Linked DNA regions of Homo sapiens: region 2 is linked to region 1. A link means that fine-mapping ties the variant in region 1 to the expression of a gene that starts in the linked region. Tissue or cell type: whole blood. Region 1 holds a variant in brackets; the other region holds the start of a gene. All regions are shown on one strand. Distances are from middle to middle.

Region 1 (2,760 bases):
AGCTAAAAAGGAGATGGTAGATGGAACCAGAATGGCATTCTTATACTACTGGTGGAAGCTATTTGTTAGGAATGACCAAGGAGCAGGCTAGAAGGAGATTGAGTCCCTGATAATAACAGAACTTCCAAATCAGCTTTGACTACATTTATGTGAGAGAATAAGCTTCTATCTTCTTTTTTCTCATTTAAAAGAAAATTATCAACTTGATCATATAAGTTTAAAGATGTAACCATCTTACTTTGTTACATCTCCATCAAGATAGTTCAGTATTTAGGTTACAGGTATATGACTGAGAGTTCAATTCTCTTTTGTGATAAGCATGGATTATTCGAGCTATCATTCAATATTCACTTTTCAGATACATGAAGCTTGTTGACTCACATTCAAATTCACATTTGCTACTTTTTAAAATCATTTCTCGGGGCCAGGCATGGTGGGTCATGCCTGTAATCCCAGGACTTTGGGAGGCCTAGGTGGGTGGATCACTTGGGCTCAAGAGTTTGAGACCAGCCTGGGCAACATGGTGAAACCCCATCTCTATCAAAAATACAAAAAGTTAGCTGGGTATGGTGGCACACACCTGTGGTCCCAGCTACTCAGGAGGCTGAGATAGGAGGATTGTTTGAGCCAGGGAGGCAGAGGTTGCAGTGAGCCAAGATCGTACCATTGCACTCCAGCCTGGGTGACAAAGTGAGACCCCCTCTCAAAAAAAAATCATTTCTCGGAGGAGCCAAGATGGCCGAATAGGAACAGCTTTGGTCTACAGCTCCCAGCGTGAGCGATGCAGAAGACAGGTGATTTCTGCATTTCCAACTGAGGTACTGGGTTCATCTCACTGGGGAGTGGCAGACAGTAGGCACAGGATAGTGAGTGCAGCGCACTGCACGCGAGCCAAAGCAGGGCGAGGCATTGCCTCACCTGGGAAGCGCAAGGGGTCAGGGAATTCCCTTTCCTAGTCAAAGAAAGGGGTGGCAGATGGCACCTGGAATATTGGGTCACTCCCACCCTAATACTGCGCTTTTCCAATGGGCTTAAAAAACGGCACACCAGGAGATTATATCCCTCACCTGGCTCAGAGGGTCCTATGCCCACGGAGTCTGGCTCACTGCTAGCGCAGCAGTCCGAGATCAAACTGTAAGGCAGCAGCGAGGCTGGGGGAGGGGCATCCACCATTGCCAAGTTAGTTGTTTGATTAGGTAAACAAAGTGGCCAGGAAGCTCAAACTGGGTGGAGCCCACCACAGCTCAAGGAGGCCTGCCTGCCTCTGTAGGCTCCACCTCTGGGGGCAGGGCACAGACAAACAAAAAGACAGCAGTAACCTCTGCAGACTTAAATGTCCCTCTCTGACCACTTTGAAGAGAGTAGTGGTTCTCCCAGCATGCAGCTGGAGATCTGAGAATGGGCAGACTGCCTCCTCAAGTGGGTCCCTGACCCCCGAGTAGCCTAACTGGGAGGCACCCCCCAGTAGGGGCGGACTGACACCTTACACGGCCGGGTACTCCTCTGACACAAAACTTCCAGAGGAACCATCAGGCAGCAGCATTTGCGGTTCACCAATATCTGCTGTTCTGCAGCCACCGCTGCTGATACCCAGGCAAACAGGGTCTGGAGTGGACTTCTAGCAAACTCCAACAGACCTGCAGCTGAGGGTCCTGTCTGGTAGAAGGAAAACTAACAAAC[A/G]GAAAGGACATCCACACCAAAAACCCCTCTGTACGTCACCATCATCAAAGACCAAAGGTAGATAAAACCACAAAGATGGGAAAAAAACAGAGCAGAAAAACAGGAAACTCTAAAAATCAGAGCATCTCTCCTCCTCCAAAGGAACGCAGCTCCTCACCAGCAACAGAACAAAGCTTCGTGGAGAATGACTCTGATGAGTTGAGAGAAGACGGCTTCAGACGATCAAACTACTCCGAACTACAGGAGGAAATTCGAACCAATGGCAAAGAAGTTAAAAGCTTTGAAAAAAAATTAGATGAATGGATAAATAGAATAACCAATGCAGAGAAGTCCTTAAAGGACCTGATGGAGCTGAAAACCAAGGCACAAGAGCTACGTGACGAACGCAGAAGCCTCAGTAACTGATGCGATCAACTGGAAGAAAGGGTATCAGTGATGGAAGATGAAACGAATGAAATGAAGCGAGAAGAGAAGTTTAGAGAAAAAAGAATAAAAAGAAACGAACAAAGCCTCCAAGAAATATGGGACTATGTGAAAAGACCAAATCTACGTCTGATTGGTGTACCTGAAAGTGACAGGGAGAATGGAATCAAGTTGGAAAACACTCTGCAGGATATTATCCAGCAGAACTTCCCCAATCTAGCAAGGCAGGCCAACATTCAAATTCAAGAAATACAGAGAACGCCACAAAGATATTCCTCGAGAAGAGCAACTCCAAGACACAGAATTGTCAGATTCACCAAAGTTGAAATGAAGGAAAAAATCTTAAGGGCAGCCAGAGGTTGGGTTACCCACAAACGGAAGCCCATCAGACTAACAGCTGATCTCTCAGCAGAAACTCTACAAGCCAGAAGAGAGTGGGGACCAATATTCAACATTCTTAAAGAAAAGAATTTTCAACCCAGAATTTCATATCCAGCCAAACTAAGCTTCATAACTGAAGGAGAAATAAAATACTTTACAGACAAGCAAAGGCTGAGAGATTTTGTCACCACCAGGCCTGCCCTATAAGAGCTCCTGAAGGAAGCACTAAACATGGAAAGGAACAACCGGCCACTGCAAAAACATGCCAAATCGTAA
Region 2 (2,760 bases), 81 kb after region 1:
GGACAGACAACTGAGGGTCCTGATGTAGGAATTACCCTGACTGTAATCAAATCTCAGGGTAAAAACATGACAAGTCCGCTTTCCACGCTGCTCCTCTGCCCAAACTTTCCCCTTTCATTCTGGGAATGACCATCGACTCTCAAAATGATGTTAAACAACAGCCCACAACTGATCTATACTCCCTCTTCCGACAAACCCTATACTTCTCTATATCAAAGCAGCATTTGCCAAGTCTTGGTAGGGAGCACTTCAGGTCATTCCCAGAGAGATGCCCATACATAAGGTGGAAGTGTCCATGTTGCAAGGCAGTGCAAACGCTCAGATTTCAAGCATTCATAATGCGTTGACAGAAACATTTTTTTTCTATTTAAATCTCATGTTGATTCCCACTCTGGCAGTGATTACGTCCTAAGTCATTACGTCGCTTTTTAAATACCAATTTGTCAAGAAAGGTAACTCCATCCCATCCAACAACAGACTTGAGCACGCCAAGTATCGCTCATTTTTCTTAATTTGCTCTAAGTTTCTTAATAAACTGAGTGTTTCCAAAAGAAAATTTCACAACCCGCACAAATGCCATTTCCAAATTTAACTAACCATGGCTAATACTTAGAAGTGTAAGCGTTAACACAGGAAAATCAGCATGAGGGACAAAATACACACACATATACACTCACACACACACACACAATCCTTAAACACTGAACTAGGGCGCCAGCCTCATGTTTAAATATCTCAACTTGAACTCCACTGAAACAAGAGGAAATTCTCACTAGCCAGGCAGCAGTAAGGCTTTTGTGGACACCTCTTATTTTCAAAGAACCCTCTTTTTAAAAAGTTGAAAATTAATTTCTAACTGCTTTAAAGGGCGCATGACTGGGTCAAAAGATAAACACAGAAAGTGTAGGACACTCTCAGGCGGGAGCAGCGCAGGTTTAGCCCCGGCCGGAGGGGAAGGAGGGAAATGAGTGAGGGGTCAGAGACAGGAGGAAAGACGCGGGAGACGCGGCACCCACCGGCGAGCAGCCCGGGCTAGGCCGAGCCCGCGCCCAGCGCCCCGCGCCCGCCGCGTCCCCCACACCGGGAACTGCCCGTACCTGTCCGACACGCCGGGATGCGCTGCGGGGCCCGCGACGCCGGCGCCTCTCACGGCGCCGCGTCCGCCGCCCGCGAGCCAGGAAGCCACCGCGGCCTGCGGCTTCCCGCCACCGCCGCCCGTTCCTTCTTCCAGGGACACGGCGAGCTGGCTGAAAGCGTAAAGGAGCGAGCAGAAGCCGCAGGCCACACACAGCACCACGACGCGCAGGTAGCGCCGCATCGCCCCGGCCGCGCTCCTCCTTCGCCGCCGCCGCCGCGCCCGCCCCGACGAACTGGAGCGGAGGGAGGGGCACCGCGCAGCCGCGGGCGCAACAAGTTCCTCACCCGCAGCCGCCGCCGCCGCCTTGCGCCCGCTCCCTTCCTTCCCTCCCCGCCCACCACCTAGGCGAGCGCAGTCGCGGCTCCGGAGCCGAAGGACTACCCGCCCGGAAGCCTGGACACCGCCTCTGCCGCCGCGCGCTCAAGGGTCAGCGGCAGCGACGCAACCCCGCCCCTCCCCCGGGCGGGAGGGCTGGACGCGCCGGCGCAGTTCGCGTGGGAGGGACGCAGGGCTGGCGCGCAGAGGGTGGTGTGAGTGCGCGGAACGCGGCGCGCCTGAGGGCTATAGCTAGCGCAGGCCGACGCGCAGGTGAATGGGAGCCCTGTGGGTCTCGACCGCCGAGAGAGGGGGAGCGAAAGCCTCAGGGCTCTGGAGGCAGTTGACCTAAATTCTAATTATGGTCCTTCCACATGGTAGTTTGTGACATTGGGCAACCTAAATTCTCTGAGCATGTTTCTTCGTCCCTAAAATGGAGCTACTATCCTCATCATGGGGTGGTTGTAAAGATTAAACTGTTTAACGCTCGAAAACCGCCTAACACTTAGAAGACACTTGACTAGGCCAGTTTCCTCTCCATCCTCCCCCAGCCTCTAAGTTTCTGTGATACTATAATGTGCACGAGCCATTTTCACCCCGATAAGCTCATTGCTTCGTGTGTTTGGTATGCGGACCTTACCTCTTGCCTCCCAGCAGACAGTGAGTTCCTGTAAGGCAGGGCTCTTCCCTTTGACCTTTTTGACCTCCCTCACAACTCATTATTTTCATGTGCAAAACAATTAGTATTCTCTCCACAGAGCTTCTTTCTTCCCCAGTTCTTCTCCCTCTTCTTCTGTGTTTCCACTACGTTCATTCATTGACCATTTATAAAGCATCACTTGTGCCAAGCTCTGTGTGAGTACCTAGGGGTATAAAGAGGCCTAAGTGGAGCGTGGGTGGGACAGCGGATACTTGTAAATAAGCGCAACGCAGTGATAACAGACTTAAGATCCAGGCCTGTAAGGGTGTGGGCATACACACAAAGGAACAATCAGTTCTATCTGTGAGTATGGTCAAGAGAGACTTCATAGCAAAGGTGGCGCTAGAGTCTTGAGTCGGGTAAGGGAAGTAATTCCAGGCTGAAGGATCAATAAACAGGCTCTTGTGTAGGGAACTGTTGAGAAGTTTGATACCACCAGCTAAGTGAATGCAAGAGAGGGTATGATGAGCGATAAGCGCGTAGAAGGGGCCAGATATTTGAGTGCTTTGTTTAGCACACCAAGGAGTTTGAATTTAATCTGCAAGACATTAGTGAACCATTGAAGGGTTTTTAAATAGGGAAGTAACATGATCACAATTGCATTTTA

What was found. PIP is the estimated chance that this variant, and not a neighbour inherited with it, causes the effect.
Region 2: GXYLT1 starts here. The variant in region 1 is fine-mapped to the expression of GXYLT1 in whole blood (INTERVAL, PIP 0.97).

Annotation. Positions count from the first base shown.
Region 1 is chr12:42,062,258-42,065,017 of GRCh38, forward strand. No RefSeq gene overlaps it. Among named protein-coding and RNA genes, the nearest start is that of GXYLT1, 81 kb to the right of the region's middle. The variant A/G (reference allele first, on the strand shown) is at 1,681.
Region 2 is chr12:42,143,329-42,146,088 of GRCh38, forward strand. It overlaps GXYLT1 (glucoside xylosyltransferase 1), which reads right to left and starts at 1,546. Exons shown (of 8, transcript NM_173601.2): 1 at 1,098-1,546. The coding sequence starts at 1,318. RefSeq lists silencers at 934-1,163, 1,244-1,743 and an enhancer at 1,904-1,973.